Regions from separate parts of the Homo sapiens genome. Here region 2 is linked to region 1. The links come from fine-mapping of genetic effects on gene expression. A gene starts in region 1. The other region holds a variant in brackets. All regions are shown on one strand. Distances are from middle to middle. Region 1 holds the start of RPS20 (ribosomal protein S20). Region 2 has its middle 10 kb from the start of MOS.

The links. PIP is the estimated chance that this variant, and not a neighbour inherited with it, causes the effect. A credible set is the group of variants that fine-mapping cannot tell apart.
Region 2: its variant is the best candidate, but not a certain one, in a credible set for the expression of RPS20 in testis (GTEx, PIP 0.52).

What each region holds. Positions count from the first base shown.
Region 1 is chr8:56,070,372-56,080,698 of GRCh38, reverse strand. RPS20 (ribosomal protein S20) reads left to right here and starts at 6,193. Exons shown (of 4, transcript NM_001023.4): 1 at 6,193-6,318; 2 at 6,540-6,639; 3 at 6,931-7,004; 4 at 7,427-7,645. The coding sequence starts at 6,316. The coding sequence ends at 7,609. SNORD54 (small nucleolar RNA, C/D box 54) reads left to right here and starts at 6,798; the gene lies at 6,798-6,860. It overlaps CERNA3 (competing endogenous lncRNA 3 for miR-645), which reads right to left and starts at 6,107. Exons shown (of 2, transcript NR_149110.1): 1 at 5,819-6,107; 2 at 5,425-5,692.
Region 2 is chr8:56,098,396-56,108,722 of GRCh38, reverse strand. It overlaps the pseudogene NPM1P21. Among named protein-coding and RNA genes, the nearest start is that of MOS, 10 kb to the left of the region's middle. The variant C/G (reference allele first, on the strand shown) is at 4,470.

The sequences.
Region 1 (10,327 bases):
TTTCTAACCTCAGCTATAGTGAAATGTATAAAGCCCTTCTATGCCATGTTCTTTAATACAACAGGATTTTGTATCTCTCAGATATACTGCCACTGCTAATGATAAAGATGACTGCTAACATACACTGATAGTACAGAGCTAAGAGTGCAGGCAGCTTTGATCCAAACACTAGTTTTCCTGTGACCTAACCTCAGCTTCCTCATAAATAGAAAGTGAATAACAGCACTTATCACCTACAGTTGATGTGAGGATCAAATGGATTACTATTACAGTTAGAACACTCCCAACAATAGTGCTGGTTCTTCTCCTTCTCCTTCCGCCTTCTCCTTCTCCTCCTCCTCCTCCCCTCCCCCTCCTCCTTCTTCTTCTTTTTCTTTTTCTTCCTTTTTTTTGAGACAGTCTCACTCTGTCCAGGCTGGAGTGCAGGGGCATAATTTCGGCTCACTGCAACCTTCACCTCCCAGGCAGGCAATTTTCATGCCTCAGCCTCCCAAGTAGCCAGGACTACAGGTGTGCACCACCACACCTGGCTAATTTTTGTACTTTCAGTAGAGATGGGGTTTAACCATGTTGGCCAGACTGGTCTAGAACTCCTGGCCTCAAGTGATCCACCTGCCTCAGCCTCCCAAAGCGCTGGGACTACAAGCATGAGCCACCGCACCTGGCCTGGTGCTAGCTACTCTCATATGCCGAGTAACGTTCTAAATCTTCACATACTCTCTCTGGTTTTTATTCTTAAATTTCAGACTGAAGAAGTTTAACACAAAAAATATGTATTTAGATAAAAAATTCTGCAAATAAAATACAGGAGTTCCCCCTTATCCACAGAGGTAGTGCCAAGCTCCCCAGTAGATGGCTGAAAGCATTTCAGACTGAAGAAGTTTAACATACAAATGTTGTATTTAGATTTTTAAATTCCACAAATAAAATACAGGAGTTTCTCCTTATCCACAGAGCTGGTGCCAAGACACCCTGGGTGCCTGAAACCACAGATAGAACCAAACTCTATATATACTACGTTTGTTCCTGTACATACATACCTATGATAAAGTTTAATTTATAAGTTAGGTACATGAAGAGATTAATAATATTTTATTATACTTTAATAATAAAATAGGACAATGGTAGTCATATACTGTAATAAAATTATGTGAATGTGGTCTCTCTGATTTCAAAGTATCTTATTGAACTGTGCTGCAGGTAACTGAAACCTCAGAATGTGAAACCAGGGATAAGGTGGGGACTACTGTTGTGTCTAAACAGACTCATCCACATTCATTCCACAATTTGCCTTTTTCAATGTGATTCAGACATTTACACATGTGTACCATGAATTCAGTAGTTTTTGACTGCTGTAAATTTCCTTTTGGAGAAAGTAGGATGACACTGTCATTGCAGTGAAAGACCAGTAGATGGCCATCCACAGACCCACACAAATACCTGCAGTATTTACAAGATAATTGTCTTTACAAGATAATTGTCTTTACAAGATAATTTTAAAAGATCTGCAAAAATTAGTAAAGAAAGGCTATACATAGGGATATTGAAAACACAAATTTCATAAAGTTGTTAGGAATATTTCAAAAGTTAAAATGAACCTGCTATCTAATTCAATGTTTTTCACACCGAAATCCTCATTCGGCTGTTGGAGGAAATATCTGTTTGGGTACAACCTTCCCAGAAGGCAACTTACTTAATACCAAAGTATTTTAAATGTGCTTATTCTTTGATTAAGCCATCAGAGGATAAGTTATTTAGTAATTGACCTAAGGCATTAAGTAGGAGCTAAAATATTCATCTACAATAGTGGCTCTCAACCGGGCATTATTTTTACCCACAGGGACTGTTGACAATGTCTGGAGGCATGTTTGATTGTCACCAGTGGAGGAGTGGGGTTGCTCCTAGCACCTAGTGAGTATAGAGGCCAGAAATGTCGCCAAACCTCCTAAATGCGTAGGACAGTCCCCCAAAGCAAAGAATTATCCGGCCCCCAAAATGTCCATTGTGCTGAGATTGAGAAACCCTGATCTACCAGGATTTACCTCATGATATTGTTTATAGACTGCAAAATGGGAAAACCAGCCTAAATGCCTAAAAACAGAAGACAGGTTCAACAAATCCTAAAAGAATCATTCATACAATTCATGATAACACCGTCATTAAAAGACATGTTGGCCTGGCGTGGTGGCTCATGCCTGTAATCCCAGCACTTTGAGAGGCCAAGGCCAGTGGATCACCTGAGGTCAGGAGTTCGAGACCAGCCTAGCCAACATGGCAAAACACTGTCTCACCTGAAATACAAAAGTTAGCCGGACGTGGTGGTGGGTACCTGTAATCCCAGCTACTCGGGAGGCTGAGGCAGGAGAATCACTTGAACCTGGGAGGCAGAGGTTGCAATGAGCTGCGATCATACCACTGCACTCCAGCCTGGGCAACAGAGCAAGACTGACTCCTCAAAAAAAAAAGAAAAGAAAAGAAACATACATTGAATGATGGAATTATGTATTTTCTTCTTATTTTTGGCTTATTGTTGTTACTTTTTTCTCCAATGGATATCTCACATCTAGTATTCAAACATAACTTTTTTTTTTTTTTTGAGATGGAGTTTCGCTCTTGTTGCCCAGTCTGGAGTGCAATGGCACGATCTCGGCTCACTGCAACCTCTGCCTCCTGGGTTCAAGCGATTCTCCTGCCTCAGCCTCCCGAGTAGCTTAGATTACAGGAGCCCGCCACCACACCCGGCTAATTTTTGTATTTTAGTAGAGACAGGTTTTCAGCACGTTGGTCAGGCTGGTCTCGAACTCCGATGTCAGGTGATCCACCCACCTCGACCTCCCAAAGTACTGGGATTACAGGTGTGAGCCACCGCGTCTGGCCCAAACATAACATTTCAAAGAGAAATTGGGGGCCACAGAAGCTGCTAGTTTTCAAGAGAAAAATACGGCAAAGTGTTTGAAACTAAAACTAATAAACTTTAAAATTCCCAAACCTCACTAGATCCCACCTCCTGACTCTAGTAGTCTACTGTCTGCTTCTACAAATTTGACTTTTTTTGACTCCACATATAAGTGAACTCACACAGTATATTTATCTTTAGTAGAGACAGGGTTTCACCATGTTGGCCAGGCCGATCTCGAGCTTCTGACTCCAGGTGACCTACCCGCCTCAGCCTCCCAAAGGCTAGGATTACAGGTGTGAGCCACCATTCCCGGCCAGAATTTCCTTCTTTTTTAAGGCTGAATAATATTGATCCATTCAGGCTGGGCACGGTGGCTCACACCTGTAATCCTAGCACTTTGGAAGGCTGAGGTGGGCAGATAACCTGAGGTCAGGAGTTCAAGACCAGCCTGGCCAACATGGTGAAACCTCGTCTCTACCGAAAATACAAAAATTAGCCGGGCATGGTGGTGCCTGCCTGAACTTCCAGCTACTTGGGAGGCTGAGGCAGGAGGATTGCTTGAACCCAGGAGGTGGAGGTTGCAGTGTGCCGAGATCGCACCACTGCGCTCCAGCCTGAGCAACAGAGTAAGACTCTGTTTCCAAAGAAAAAAAAGATCCATTCATCTGTTGCTGGACACCTAGGTCATTTCCTGACCTTAGCTACTGTAAATAATGCTGCAATAAACATGGGAGTGCAGGTATCTCTTCTAGATACCAATTTCATTTTCTTTGGGTATATACCCAGAAGTGGGATGGCTGGTTCACATGGAAGTTCCATTTTTAATTTTTTGAGGACCCTCCATACTGTTTTCCAAAAAAAAAAAATTTCCATTACTTTTGTCTAATATTATCTTAACCATTTGTTTCCTTAGTTCTAGTCACATCAGCCATTTTTCACATACCTGCTGGGCCACATTTTGCTTTTCTCTATAAAGAAATTTCCTCGTTTACTATCAAAGTAGTTAACTTGTTCACCAGTTCCTCAAATACTTAAAGGATGAGGTAAGCCTAAGAAAAAGATGTACCAGATTTGTTATAAAAAAAAAATCACACTTGTACAAAATTACAATTGTACTTCTCAATGAAATTCCTTCATTGAATTTCCAGTCATCTTTGAGCATTAGTAAAACATGAATGCCGCTGTATATGTTCACTTAAAATATGCACAGTCACCTCCAGGCAGTACTACAGCGGTGGCTGATCACACCCCAGGGAGCAGGGCAATTGTGCTTTTGTCTATTTGTCGCACACAGCCATACCAATAAGTTAAACCTCTAAGTTATGAAGTCTCAGGTTACAGCTAGCACAATAAGAATGCAGGTTTTCAGAATTTCTGCTGAAAATTCTACTAAGAGAGTATTTACAGACAATGGATTACATTTAAAAATAACTGAACTGGGGCCGGGATAGGTGGCTCACACCTGTAATCCCAGCACTTTGGGAGGCCAAGGCAGGCAGATCGCGAGTTCAGGAGATTGAGACCATCCTGGCTAACACGGTGAAACACCGTCTCTAGTAAAAACACAAAAAATTAGCTGAGAGTGGTGCCACGTGCCTGTGGTCCCAGCTACTCGGGAGGCTGAGGCAGGAGAATTGCTTGAACCCAGGAGGTGGAGGTTGCGGGGAGCCAAAATCGTGCCACTGCATCCAGCCTCGGCGACAGAGCGAGACTCCATCTCAAAAAACAAACAAACAAAAAACCCAAAAAACTGAACTGGAAAACATCCAAATTTGAAAATTTAAAATAATTGTTAAAATGGCAGCAAAAAACCTCATACGTATCGTGAGCCAAAGAAACCCAGTTATTAGTTATGTTCCAATTATCACCAAATAAGACAATGCTATTATTTGATTAAAGTTTCAAACATAATTTCCTACCAAGGAACAGAAGACAAAACCTCAAGAAAGAGTCCTGACGGGGCGAGCGCGGTGGCTCACGCCTGTAATCCCAGCACTTTGGGAGGCCGAGGCGGGCCTGAGATCTGGAGTTTGAGACCAGCATGATCAACATGGAGAAACCCCGTCTCTACTAAAAAAAAAAAAAAAAAAAAAAAAATTAGCCGGGCATGGTGGCGCATGCCTGTAATCCCAGCTACTCCGGAGGCTGAGGCAGGAGAATCGCTTGAACCCAGGAGGCGGAGTTTGCGGTGAGCCGAGATCGCGCCATGGCACTCCAGCCTGGGCAACAAGAATGAAACTCCGTCTCACAAAAAAAAAAAAACAAAACAAACAAAAAAAAAAAACAACAAACAGGCCTGGACGGAGGGGTCAGAGCTCTGTCCCTCCCCATTTCAGAGTGTTTGAGCAAATAACTCTTTCGGCTCAGAGCTTCAGGTGGAAAGTAATATGAGATGATTTTACTCTTCTTTCTGCCCTGTATCAAAATCCATCTCAGTGATTTCCACGTATTTAGCCCCGGCTTCTTGCTCAGGTGTAGGTGAGCTCACCCTGCGCTCTCTCCCACTGCTCAGCTCAGTTGACCATTCGGGTTTTCCACTATACTTGGTCACTTATGTGATTATGAACAGATGTTCAGTATTAAGAAGACCCTGGGGGATCTTATCCAATGACTTTATCCAACAGAAAGGAGATGAGGTATCAGGACTGGGTGGCTAGCCAGGTTCCAGGCCGGGCCTCAGGATAGCTGCGCAGCCTGGCATTTTCGCCTCACTTTCCAGAAGGACGAGAAGCCAAGTTCAGGTCCTTTCCAGAAATAGATGTAGATACTTCTGCTGGACTGGGAAGCCAGGAGCTGAAATATCACAACAGGACGTTTCAGGCTATGAAAAATAACTGCTTACTAATTCTAACGTAAGTTATCCAGATTACGAGAAGCATTTCTGCCAATGCTCATGTCAGCTAAGCTCAGAGAAGTTACCTCATCCTCAGAGAGCAACGAATGGTATGGTCTATGTAGAAAGCAAAATTTGCAACGGAAAAACCAGAGTTCGTGTGCACTTTATGAGGAAGAGGGTTAGGTGCACCAGACAGAGGAGTTTCTCAGGTTTCCGTGTCGCCTGTTCTCTCGACCAGGTGGCCCTCTCGGCGCAGGCGGGGACCCCACCCTGCGGGACTTCGGCTCCTCCGTGCGGACAGGGGGCGCCCGCAGCCGTGCCTTTCCCGCCAACTCCACTAGTGCTCCAGCTCGCCCTTGTGCGACCGCCTCTAGGGCCCGGGATATTTCCTGTTCCGGGGCGTGTGGGACCCGGATGCAAGCGTGCTATATAAGCGTTGCTCAAGTCCCACCCCTTTCTTTTTGAGGAAGACGCGGTCGTAAGGGCTGAGGATTTTTGGTCCGCACGCTCCTGCTCCTGACTCACCGCTGTTCGCTCTCGCCGAGGAACAAGTCGGTCAGGAAGCCCGCGCGCAACAGCCATGGTGAGGCGGCAGTCGGCGGCGGGCGGCGCAACGCAGGGCTCGGGCGCCGGGGGGACCCCGGTTTCGAGTTCGTGCTCCTGAGGGCAGATGCCGGGGCGTGTAGGGGCGGAAAGGCGCTCCTGAAATGGTGGGGAAACGCGGGAAGCTTCCGGAAGCTGCCTTTCTCCAGAAGTGGCAGACCATTTTTGGCTTATTGTTCTTTTTCATGTATCTAATAATAGGCTTTTAAGGATACCGGAAAAACACCCGTGGAGCCGGAGGTGGCAATTCACCGAATTCGAATCACCCTAACAAGCCGCAACGTAAAATCCTTGGAAAAGGGTCAGTGCATTCGTTATGCGGGGGGGAGGGGGAATTGGGCGAAAAGCGACGAGCTTTACTCGTTAATGTTAGTGTAGAAGGTGGACTGCAAGAACTAAAGTGACAAGTTACTTAAAAAAGTAAAGCGTGGCTTAAAATTGCTTTTACTGTCATACAGCTGGCGATGAGGAGGTACCTATTGTGTTGAGTAACGGTGATAATTTTATACGCTATTCTGAGCCAGCAGAAGTGAAGGCCTTAAGCCGATTTTAATTGTTTCGATTATACTGAGAGGTCTTTTATTTCCTGTAGTGTGTGCTGACTTGATAAGAGGCGCAAAAGAAAAGAATCTCAAAGTGAAAGGACCAGTTCGAATGCCTACCAAGGTAAAGTAAATCGGAGGGGCAGGAAGTAGGAGTTGCTTCCGGATGTTGCATAAATTCAGGTTCTTTAAGGAGTTCGGCTGCCAAAATTGTTAACACTGATGCTGTCTACAAACGCACATAGAAATCGGTGGTAGATTGCGGTTCCTAGTAAGTAGCTAATGTTTAGATATGATTGTTGAATTATTGTTGCTGTGTTCTTGGTGTGCTTTGGTGCTTAACAGGCGCAAGCTCTAAGGGTGGTGTCCTAGCACAGTGAAAACAGACCTGGCATTTTCAACCCATGGTACCTGAAAATCTATTAGTGTAAATTGGAATCATACCAAAGGGAAACTAATGAAATGATTAGAAGTAATGATTTTCCAGATGTTCTAGGGATAAGTATAAAACGATAAACACTTGGTTTCCTTTGTCTTTTGTTACAGACTTTGAGAATCACTACAAGAAAAACTCCTTGTGGTGAAGGTTCTAAGACGTGGGATCGTTTCCAGATGAGAATTCACAAGCGACTCATTGACTTGCACAGTCCTTCTGAGATTGTTAAGCAGATTACTTCCATCAGTATTGAGCCAGGAGTTGAGGTGGAAGTCACCATTGCAGATGCTTAAGTCAACTATTTTAATAAATTGATGACCAGTTGTTAACTTCTGTTGGTTTTTATTCAGAATACTGGCAGATTTTAGGAATATAAAGGTGTACTATGAGACTTCCACTTTTCAGGTGGAATATATGGGTATCTTAGAGTGGTCTATCCTGTTTTCGTTGTCGTTTGAGTCATTTGAAAACTGGATTCCGTTAACTACATAATATGTGAGACCTGACTGGTTTTATTGGACACTGGCAGTTTATAACTTTGGCATACTCTAGATAAATTCTGATTGGTATGGGGTGTTAAGGTTTCTGGGGCGTTTGTAATGCACACCCATGGTTGAGAACCTAGTGCGCTAGTAGGCACGTGTTAAAAAGCTAGTAACTAATATTTTTAAATTAACCAAGTTTAACGTCCTTAAAAAAGGATTAAGTGGCAGAGGCAGGACTAAAACTAAGTTTTAGGGTTTTAGGAACTAAAACTTAGTTTAAAAATACTTATATTTTCAGTGTTTTATATTTTAAATATAAAATTTTCACTTTTTTTTTTTGGGGGGGGGGACGGCGTTTTGCTCTGTGGCCCAGGCTGGAGTGCAGTGGTGTGTTCTTGGCTCACTGCAACCTCTGCCTCCCAGGTTCAAGCAATTCTCCTGCCTCAGCCTCCCAAGTAGTTGGGATTACAAGTGCCTGCGACCAAGCCTGGTTAATTTTTTATTTTATAGTAGAGATGGGGTTTTGTCCTGTTGTTCAGGCTGGTCTCAAACTCCTGACCTCAGGTGATCCACCTGCCTCAGCCTCCCAAAGTGCTGGGATTACAGGCATGAGCCACCATGCCTGGCCCATTTTCACTTTTACATTTTTTAAAAATACTTATATTTTCAGTGTTTTAGACAGGGTCTCTGCAGTCCAGGCTGGAGTGCAGTGGTGTGATCACTGCAGCCTTGACCTGGGCTCATGCAATCCACCTCAAACTGCCTAGTAGCTGGGACTTAACAAGCATGTGGCTACCATGCCCAGCTAATTGTTTTTTGTAGAGGTGAGGTTTTGCCATGTTGCCCAGGCTGGTCTGGAACTCTGAAGACTCAAACCATCAGCCTGTGTTAGCCTACTAAACTGCTGGTGTTACAGGAGTGAGCCACTGTACCCAGCCTAGAATTTAAAATCAGATAGATACCCTTACAGGTTTGCTAAACTTATTGGGGAAAGTTTCTATAGATTTATTGTGGAAAAATGGAACATCTACAAATTGTTAAGATTGCCTTCAGAAAATTTTTGAAATTTTTAATAGGATCAAAGTTGGGTAATTCAAGTTTTTTCTTTTTGGATTTGGGCCTAGGCTTTCACGCTGAACTCTGCTATCTTTTCAAATTGACCTTCAGTTGAGATTTCTGTATACAACCAACTGCATGCTAGGCACCTGCAACCCACAGCTGAAAAGCTAATGTGTCTAAAATGAAATCTTCCCTCCCAGAAGCTCTGTCCTGTGTTCCTAGTCTGAATCCATTGTCTACTGAAGTCTCACAGTTCAAACTGGAGTCACCCCTTGCCCCTCCCCTACTGCTGTTACCCAACATCCAATTCCTTCTGAGTCTACTTCAGATCTCAAGACAAACCCAGTTAACATCAAGGATTTGAATGGAACTGAGTCTGGAATGAATTATGCCACATTGCTAAATTTAAACCAAACAGTTGATCTTTGGGAGCTGTTTAGCTATCAGTTAATAAGACCATTTTAAAATGGAATACCTATCAATACGTGGCCCCCAGACAAATACCTATGAACTTTTAGTGCAGCATAGCAGTCTTTAGAGCACACATGTCTTGAGAACTGACTGAGGAAATGAAATTCTGAAAAAAATGTCACTAAAGTCCAGAGAACATATACTGTGAAAAATACACTTCAGTAAATCAGAAAATAGTGGAAGGACAGCTTCATGGCTTTCACGGAATTGTGAACATGAGCAGTTGTGTTTTTTCACAATGGTTAAAGTGTTGGATTAAAGCTATACGTAATTGAGAACCTGTATTACAGCTAAAATAGCACTAAAAAATTTGAAACTGCTGTTATCTTCAATTTCTCAAACACTTAAAAATACCTGCATGGAAATAAAACTGCAGGGCCTTTGAATATAGGGAATTCAGGATAGATTAAATAGTGGTAATGATGCCAATAATTCTATGCAAGTTAACAGGCCATCTTGTATGGATGGGAGTTAAAGGAAGGTTGAAAATAGGATATCTCTGCAGTGCTTACTCTATTTGGATTTGCAGAGCACTGCTTCTGGTGTAGAAATGTAAGCTAGCAATAACCAAGGGAACAGAAACCACCATGGCTGTTCATTGCTGGGTCAGAATTTTTTTTTTTTTTTTTTGAATTTAAATGGAAACAGTCTCGCTGTGTCACCCAGGTTGGAGTGCAGTCGTGCGAACATGGCTCGCTGCAGCCTTCAACTCCCTGGCTGAACCGATCCTCCTGCCTCAACCTCAAGTAGCTGGGACTACAGGCTCACACCTTGACGCTTGGCCTGGCTTTTTTTGTGGAGATGGGGTCTTGCCATGTTGCCCAGGCTGGTCTCAAACTCCTATGCTCAGGCGATCCACCCTCCTCGGCCTCCCATAGTGCTAGGGTTATAGGCAAGAGCCACTATACCCAGACTGGATTAGATTTCTTCACATGACATCCGTAGAGTGCCTGTGTGTATGCTCTGTGGATGTAAAATGAACAGGCAAGAGTACAG
Region 2 (10,327 bases), 28 kb before region 1:
GCCTCTTGGAGAAATGGCGATTCCAGAGCAGGGAAAATACAAAATGAACCAGAACATCTTGTGCCTCCAAATAAAGAAATGCTCAGGAATGATAGACACCTGTTATAAGGACACAGGAGCTGGCTTGAATGATCTCCTACTGGCTGACCTGAGATAATTTTAGCATTAAAATGATTAATGATGGTAAATCAATTAGAAATGAATAGTCATAATGAAGGAAATAGGAATCCATAATGATATAAATAATTATATAAATAAATGTTGGAGAAAGGAAAGCTCTACCTTACAATAGAATACCAACAAATATTAATTGCAAATAAGCACAAAATAATTATCCTTACAGTGAAGAAGTCATACTGACATTATCTTACAAGTGATGTAGACAGATATACAGAAAGGTATCTTACTCAAGATAATATCACCAGTAATGGGGCAAACTGACAAACATTACGTGCCTCCTGATATGACGCACTGAGAAGAACATAGCACCACTTCTGTGGTAGTCCTGCAAAAGACATATAACCTTACCCAAATCAAGAGGAAACAATTATACACTCAAATTGGCCTGCTCATGTCAGAAGTATCAAGGTCATAAAAGACAAGGAAAGACTGAGGAACTGTTCCATATAAAAGGACATGACAACCCAGTCCAACACATAATCCAGGATTGGATTGTGGTCCTATAACAAACATTATTAGGACAACTGATGCATTTAAATGAGATCTCTAGATTACACGGGAGTATTATAACAAAATTTCTTGATTTTGATAGTTACACTGCAGTTATGTTGGAGAAAGCCATTGTTTTTAGGAAATACTCAGTGAAATGCTAAAAGAGTAATAAGGTATTATGTCTTCAACTTACTCTCAAATGATTCAGAATAAGAAATAATTGTATGTAGAAAGAATAAAGTAAATGTCAAATTTAACAATCGGGGAACCATTGCTGAATGAGGAGGGTCACGTGCATCAGTGTGAAGAGACCACCAAACAGGCTTTGTGTGAGCAACAAGGCTGTTTATTTCACCTGGGTGCAGGCAGGCTGAGTCCGAAAAGAGAGTTAGCGAAGGGAGATAGGGGTGGGGCTGTTTTATAGGATTTGGGTGGGCAGTGGAAAATTATAGTCAAAGGGGGTTTTTCTCTTCCAGGTAGGGGCGGGGGTCACAAGGTGCTCAGTGGGGGAGGTTCTGAGCGAGGAGAAGGAATTTCACAAGGTTAATCGCTCAGTTAAGGTGGGGCAGGAACAAATCACAATGGTGGAACGTCATCAGAACTGGCCATTTTCACTTCTTTTGTGATTCTTCAGGCCATCTGGATGTATACGTGCAGGTCACAGGGGATACGATGGCTTGGCTTGGGCTCAGAGCCCTGACAAGGAGAATTTGGGAGATCTTTGTATTACCGTTGCAACTTTTCTGTAAGTTTGAAATTATTTCAAACTAAAAAATAAAAATACCTAGTTAAAGCTTAATAAAAACGTGCAAAATCTTTAGGGCAAAATCTTAAAAATACTAGAAAGGTATATAAGAGGCCTCAAAGAAATGAAAAGACTGCTATATACTTGAATAAAGATTTGCCATAAAGATGACTATTCGCCCTAAGTTAACATATATTTAAAACAATTCCAATTTTATATATAAAGTAATATAAACTAGTATTTATATATAAATATAAAACTGATGTGTTTAATTTGGAAATGAGACAAGCTGACTGTAAATTTTTTTTTTTGAGACGGGGTCTCACTCTGTCGCCCAGGCTGGAGTGCAGCAGTGCGATCTCGGCTCACGCAACCTCTGCCTCCTGCGTCAGCCTCCTGAGTAGCTGGGATTTCAGGTCCACACTATCACACCCAGCTAATTTTTGTATTTTTAGTAGAGACGGTGTTTCACCACGTTGGCCAGGCTGGTCTCAAACTCCTGACCTCAACTGATCACCCGCCTCGGCCTCCCAAAGTGCTGGGATTACTGGTGTGAGCCACCGCTCCTGGCCATAAAATTTATGTTAAAGAATTTATTTGTTTAAAAAGATCAAGAAAGTTCAGAAAGAGACAGGCAATGAGGGAGCACTAGCTCTATCAGATATTAATATGTTCTATAAAACCTAGATAATAAAAATATTGTGGCATGATATATGAATAGACAGACCATTTCAAGAGAATAGGTCAGCCATGGTGATTCACCTCTGTTATCTCAGCACTCTGGGAGGCCGAGGTGGGCAGATTACTTGAGGCCAGGAGTTTGAGACCAGCCTGGCCAACATGGTGAAACCCTGTCTCTACTAAAAATATGACAACTAGCCAGGCATGGTGGTGGGCCCTTGTAATCCCAGCTACTCAGAAGGCTGAGGCACGAGAATTGCTTGAATCTGGGAGGCAGAGGTTGCAGTGAGCCAAGATCGTGCCACTGCACTCCAGCCTGGGTGACAGAGTGAGACTCTGTCTCAAAAAAAAATTAAATTAAAATTAAAATTAAAATTAAAATACACAGAATAGAAGTCCAAGAAGTCAGTCACAAGCACATATGGGAATTCTGTCTGCAATAAAGATGGTGTCTTGAGTCAGTGGAGAAAAGATGGACTTTCTTTTTTTCTTCTTTTTCTTTTTTTTTTTTTTTTTTTTTTGGAGACAGGGTCTGGCTCTGTTGCCTAGGCTGGAATGCACTGGCACAATCTCAGCTCTCTGCAACCTCTGCCTCCTGGGCTCAAGTGATCTTCCCACCTCAGCCTCCCAAGTAGCTGGGACTACAGGCACACACCACCATGCCTGGCTAATTTTTATATTTTCTGGAGAGACGGGGTTTAGCCGTGTTGCCCAGGGTAGTCTCAAACTCCTGAGCTTGAGATCCTCCTGCCTCGGCCTCCCAAAGTGCTGGGATTACACGCACAAGCCACGGCACCTGGCCAAAAAAGATGGACTGTTCAATAAAATTATTCTGGGAGACTTGTGTGGCCAACTACCAAAATTAGATGTAGACCTCACATCATTTATTAGTGTATTATTCTGTTCTCACATTGCTATAAAGAAATACCTGAGACTGGCCCTCTCCCTCTCCTCCCTCTCCTCCCTCTCCTCCCTCTCCCTCTCCCTCTCCCTCTGCCTCTCTCTCTCCCTCTCTCTCTCTTTCCACAGTCTCCCTCTGATGCCGAGCCAAAGCTGGACTGTACTGCTGCCATCTCGGCTCACTGCAACCTCCCTGCCTGATTCTCCTGCCTCAGCCTGCCCAGTGCCTGCGATTGCAGGCGCGCGCCGCCACGCCTGACTGGTTGTCGTGTTTTTTTGGTGGAGACGGGGTTTCGCTGTGTTGGCCGGGCTGGTCTCCAGCTCCTAACCGCGAGTGATCCGCCAGCCTCGGCCTCCCCAGGTGCCGGGATTGCAGACGGAGTCTCGTTCACTCAGTGCTCAATGGTGCCCAGGCTGGAGTGCAGTGGCGTGATCTCGGCTCGCTACAACCTCCACCTCCCAGCCGCCTGCCTTGGCCTCCCAAAGAGCCGAGATTGCAGCCTCTGCCCGGCCGCCACCCCGTCTGGGAAGTTAGGAGCGTCTCTGCCTGGCCGCTCATTGTCTGGGATGTGAGGAGCCCCTCTGCCTGGCTGCCCAGTCTGGAAAGTGAGGAACGTCTCTGCCCGGCCGCCATCCCACCTAGGAAGTGAGGAGCGCCTCTTCCCCGCCGCCATCCCATCTAGGAAGTGAGGAGCGTCTCTGCCCGGCCGCCCATCGTCTGGGATGTGAGGAGCCCCTCTGCCTGGCTGCCCAGTCTGGAAAGTGAGGAGCGTCTCTGCCTGGCCGCCATCCCATCTAGGAAGTGAGGAGCGCCTCTTCCCCGCCGCCATCCCATCTAGGAAGTGAGGAGCGTCTCTGCCCGGCCACCCATGGTCTGGGATGTGGGGAGCGCCTCTGCCCCGCCGCCCCGTCTGGGATGTGAGGAGCGCCTCTGCCCGGCCGCGACCCCATCTGGGAGGTGAGGAGCGTCTCTGCCCGGCCACCTCATCTGAGAAGTGAGGAGACCCTCTGCCTGGCAGCCGCCCTGTCTGAGAAGTGAGGAGCCCCTCCGTCCGGCAGCCACCCCGTCTGGGAAGTGAGGAGCGTCTCCACCCGGCAGCCACCCCGTCCGGGAGGGAGGTGGGGGTCAGCCCCTGCCAGGCCAGCCGCCCCGTCCGGGAGGGAGGTGGGGGGGTCAGCCCCCAGCCCGGCCAGCCGCCCCGTCAGGGAGGTGAGGGGCGCCTCTGCCCGGCCGCCCCTACTGGGAAGTGAGGAGCCCCTCTGCCCGGCCAGCTGCCCCGTCCAGGAGGGAGGTGGGGGGGTCAGCCCCCAACCCGGCCAGCCGCCCCGTCCGGGAGGGAGGTGGGGTCAGCCCCCCACCCGGCCAGCCGCCCCGTCCGGGAGGGAGGTGGGGGGTCAGCCCCCCGCCGGGCCAGCCTCCCCGTCCGGGAGGGAGGTGGGGGGGTCAGCCCCCCGCCCGGCCAGCCGCCCC[C/G]TCCGGGAGGTGAGGGGCGCCTCTGCCCGGCCACCCCTACTGGGAAGTGAGGAGCCCCTCTGCCCGGCCACCACCCCTTCTGGGAGGTGTACCCAACAGCTCATTGAGAACGGGCCATGATGACAATGGTGGTTTTGTGGAATAGAAAGGCGGGAAAGGTGGGGAAAAGATTGAGAAATCGGATGGTTGCCGTGTCTGTGTAGAGAGAAGTAGACATGGGAGACTTTTCATTTTGTTCTGTACTAAGAAAAATTCTTCTGCCTTGGGATCCTGTTGATCTGTGACCTTACCCCCAACCCTGTGCTCTCTGAAACATGTGCTGTGTCCACTCAGGGTTAAATGGATTAAGGGCGGTGCAAGATGTGCTTTGTTAAACAGATGCTTGAAGGCAGCATGCTCGTTAAGAGTCATCACCAGGCCGGGCGCGGTGGCTCACGCTTGTAATCCCAACACTTTGGGAGGCCGAGGTGGGCGGATCACAAGGTCAGGAGATCGAGACCATCCTGGCTAACACGGTGAAACCCCGTCTCTACTAAAAATACAAAAAAAATTAGCCGGGCGTGATGGTGGGCGCCTGTAGTCCCAGCTACTCGGGAGGCTGAGGCAGGAGAATGGCATGAACCCGGAAGGCGGAGCTTGCAGTGAGCCGAGATTGCGCCACTGCACTCCCGCCTGGGCCACAGAGCGAGACTCCGTCTCAAAAAAAAAAAAAAAAAAAAAAAAAAAAGAGTCATCACCACTCCCTGATCTTAAGTACCCAGGGGCACAAACACTGCGGAAGGCCGCAGGGTCCTCTGCCTAGGAAAACCAGAGACCTTTGTTCACTTGTTTATCTGCTGACATTCCCTCCACTATTGTCCTATGACCCTGCCAAATCCCCCTCTGCGAGAAACACCCAAGAATGATCAATAAAAAAATAAAAAATAAATAAAAAAAAGAAATACCTGAGACTGGGTGGTTTAAAAAGAAAAGGTTTAATTGGCTCACAGTTCCTCAGGCTGTACAGGAAGCATGATGCTGGCAACTACTCAGCTTCTGGAGAGGCCTCAGGAAACACACAATCATGGTAGAGGCGAAGGGGAAGCAGGGATGTCTTAAATGGGTAGAGCAAGAGCAAGAGAGAGACTGGGGGGGGCAGGTGGTGCTACATACTTTTAAACAACCAGTTCTCATGATAGCTCACTCATTTCCTGTCATGAGAACAGCACCGAGAGGATGGTGCTAAATCATTCACAGAGGATCCACCCCTATGATTCAATCACCTCCAACCAGGCCCTGCCTCCAACTCTGGGAATTACAATTGAATGTGAGATTTGAGTGGGGACATAGATTCAAACCGTGTCAATCAGGATAGATTCCCCAATGCATCAAAGACTTAAGTGTCAAAAATGAAGTCATAAGAAGTACCAGAACAGTAAATTCTTTTATAACATCATAGTAGAAAAGTCTTCCTAAAGCCATAAATAAAACAATTGATGTTTTCAACTACAAAAACAGGGAACATGTCTTCATAGAAAGAAAATTAACAATATAAATAAAGATTAACGAGAAATAACAAACTGGAGGAGAGGATTTGTACCTCATATTACAGCAAAGGGTGAATCCCTCTAGTGTAAAAAGAGTTTCTGGAATTTGACAAGGAAAAGACCAACAGATGAATGATCAGTTCACAGACATAGAAATATGAGTGATTCTTAAATATATGAAAATTGCTAATTAAAACTACCTTTCAATACCATTTTCCATTATGGCCAAAATACAAAAATTTGACAAATATAATTGGTGAGGCATGGGGACCATGGGGAAATGCCTAGGCACTCTTGGATATTGCTGGTGGAAGTACAGACTTTAGGGAAAATAATCTGGGAACATCTATTAAAATTACAAAATTGCTGGTGTGATTCCATCCTGTGCAGCTGTTCTCTTGAGCAGTGGTCATTTATCTCTGTCCCCCTTCTCTGCCACCTAAGTGCGTGCTGCCACCCGATGGAAGATTTGATGGACATGGACATGAGCCTCCTGAGGCCCTAGAACTATCTTTTCGGTTGTGAACTGAAGGCCAACAAAGATTATCACTTTAAGGTGGATAATGATGAAAATGAGCACCAGTTATCTTTAAGAATGGTCAGTTTAAGGCTGGGCGCGGTGGCTCATGCTTGTAATCCCAGCACTTTGGGAGGCTGAGGTGGGTGCATCACGAGGTCAGGAGTTTGAGACCAGCCTGGCCAAGATGGTGAAACCCCGTCTCTACTAAAAATACAAAAATTAGCTGGGCATGGTGGCACATGCCTGTAGTCCCAGCTACTTGGGAGGCTGAGGCAGCAGAATCACTTGAATTCGGGAGGTGGAGGTTGTGGTGAGCCGAGATCGTGCCATTGCACTCCAGCCTGGGCGACAAAGCGAAACTCTGTCTAAAAAAAAAAAAAGAACGGTCAGTTTAGGGGCTGGTGCAAAGGATGAATTGCACATTGTTGAAGCAGAGGCCATGAATTACGAAGGCAGCCCAATTAAAGTAACACTGGCAACTTTGAAAATGTCTGTACAGCCAACGGTTTCCCTTGGGGGATTTGAAATAACATAACCAGTGGTCTTACAGTTGAAGTGTGGTTCAGGGCCAGTGCATATTAGTGGACAGCACTTAGTAGCTGTGGTAGAAGATGCAGAGTCAGAAGATGAAGAGGAGGAGGATGTGAAACTCTTAAGTATATCTGGAAAGCGGTCTGCTACTGGAGGTGGTAGCAAGGTTCCACAGAAAAAAGTAAAACTTGCTGCTGATGAAGATGATGATGATGATGATGATAATGATGATGATGAAGATGATGATGATTTTGATGATGAGGGAACTGAAGAGAAAGCACCAGTGAAGCAATCTATACAAGACACTCTAGCCAAAAAAGGACAAAAATTAAATCAGAATGGAAAAGACTCAAAACCATCATTAACACCAAGATCAAAAGGACAAGACTCCTTCAAAAAACAGGAAAAACTCCTAAAACACCAAAAGGACCTAGTTCTGTAGAAGACATCAGAGCAAAAATGCAAGCAAGTATAGAAAAAGTGCATTGAACAGTCCTGGGCACTACTGGTAAATTAAGCCCAAAGATGGGGAGAAAGGAAAAGGAGAGACCAATATAGTCCATACTGAGTGTCATCAACAATCCAGACTGAAGTCTTCTATTTTAATCCCAATCCCCTTTTCTGATTTGCCACCCATGCCTCTTCAGGCTGGAAACAATCTCACTCTTGGTTCCCTAAAGCACTTTCTTCTGACTGCTGTGATTCGGTGAACCTTGCCCTTTGCTTTCTATTACTTGTGCATTTGCATCACCTCTGACCATGTTTTTTTTTTTTTTTTTTTTGAGACAGAGTCTCACTGTCTCCCAGGCTGGAGTGCAGTGGCACGATCTCGGCTCACTGAAAGCTCTGCCTCCTGGGTTCACCCTGCCATTCTCCTGCTTCAGTCTCCCGAGTAGCTGGGACTACAGGCGCCCGCATGCATGCCCGGCTAATTTTTTGTATTTTTAGTAGAGACGGGATTTCACCATGTTAGCCAGGATGGTCTCGATTTTCTGACCTCGTGATCCACCTGCCTCGGTCTCCCAAAGTGCTGGGATTACAGGCGTGAGCCACCGCGCCCGGCCACCTCTGACCATGTTTTAAATCACCTTTGTATCTCCTTAGCTGTTCAATAAATATTTGAATGAATAAAAAAATTACAAAATTATTTACCCTGTGATCCAATAATCATACTTCTGGAGATTTATTTATATAGACATATGAACAAGTTTATTCATTGCAGCATTTTGGTAAGAGCAAAATGAGAGCAGGTCAAGTCTCCATCAATAAGAACTGGTTAGCTGATGATACATCCATATCATAAAACACTATGTACATGAGAAGAAATAAAAAAAGAAGCGTTTTACTGTTACTGATAAAGCTGCATAATATGTTTTTAAATTAAAAGCAAGATGTAAGATGGTAATGAATGCAACTGAGTATGTTACAATATGCTTCCTTTTGTGAAGGAAAGAGGGGGAATAAAAATAGATATTCATGTTTTTTATACTTTTACATAATAACTCCAGAAAGGAAAAAAAAAAAGTCGTTATCTGTGGTAAGGAAAAGAGACAGACAGAGCAAGGATAGGAATGGGAGTTTTCACTGCATACCATTTATATTTGATTTTATGTCAATGTATTGCTTACTCAAAAAGAATAGAATGTAATAGTAACAAATATTGAAACATAAAGTTAAACCTCAATCTGCACAACCTGCCTTAAAGCGCCTTTAATCCACTTCCCTAACTGTTCCTTGCTCTCGTGTATCACACTACTTGCCTTCCTTTTCATCCAGTTTTCTCAAGCTAACTGAATCATGGTAAACATCCTTTTAACTGTGCCAGGAATTCACTTTTCTCCAGCCACTTTCTAAAGTCAAAAGTAGAGGGCAGCAGCCCAGGCATGGTGGCTCATGCCTGTAATCTCAGCACTTTGGGAGGCCGAGGCAGTTGGATCACCTGAGGTCAGGAATTCAAGACCAGCCTGGCCAACATGGTGAAACCCCATCTCTATTAAAAATACAAAAATTAGCAGGCATGGTGGCAGGCACCTGTAGTCCCAGCTACTCAGGAGGCTGAGGCAGGAGAATTGCTTGAACCCGGGAGGTAGAGGTTGCAGTGAGTCAAGATCATACCACTGCACCCCAGCCTGGGTGGCAGAGCGAGACTCCGTCTAAAAAAAAAAAAAAAGGTAGGGAGCAGCTGACAAGGCCATGAAGGAAAAAGACTAAAATGCACCCGTTTAAGTTATGCCCCTCTGGTAAATGTTCCCGTCACACTACACTTCTCCTTCATAACACTCATCACTCTTGTAATGTCCTCACGGCTCAGAAAAATCATCACTTTTTATTATTGTCATAGCTAAAATTTATTGAGAGTATTATAATCCAAAAACTGTAAAGTGTTTTACATAGACTAAAATCTCACCACTAACCTATTTACTATGATTATTTATTTAAAGATCAGGAGATTGATACCCAGAAAGAGTAAGTAACTTGGCGGAGGGTCATGTACCCAAATGACAGGGCAGAACCTATGTCCTTAATCCTTACACTCCGCCACCTGGGATAGTCATGGTGGCAAGAAATACCCTACTTTCACTTTCATTACTTTAAATGTTTAAACAACTTATTGTATCTAATCCATTAAAAAAAAGAAAATTAGTGTCTAAGGCATTACTTGGTACAAATATTAGAATACTGTAATTGAGAAAAAGAAGTTACATGAGAAGTATAATGTGGTGCCTGTATTAAGCCATTCTTGCATTGCTATAAATGCCTGCGACTGGGTAATTTATAAGAAAAGAGGTTTGACTGGCTCATGGCTCTGCAGGCTTTACAGGAAGCACGGTGCTGGCATGTGTTCAGCTTCTAGGGAGGCCTCCGGAAGCTTACAATCATGGCAGAAGGTGAAGAGGGAGCAGCCCCTTCACGTGATGAAAGCAGAAGCAAGTGAGAGAGTGTGAGGGAGGTGCCACACACTTTTAAATGAACAGCTCTTGTGTGAACTCAGAGCAACAGCTCACTTATTACCAAGACGATGGTCCAAACCATTCATGAGGGATCTGCCCCCATGATCCAAACACCTCCTACCAGGCCTCACTTCCAACATTGGTGATTACATTTTGACATAAGATTTGTGTGGGGACAAATACCCAAACTATATCAGTGCCCCATGCTGAAAAGGAAATAGTTAAGTGTATACTTATTCCTTTCCTTCACATAAATCCGATCATGGCCGGGTGCGGTGGGTCACACCTGTAATCCCAGCACTTTGGGAGGCCGAGGCGGGCAGATCACAA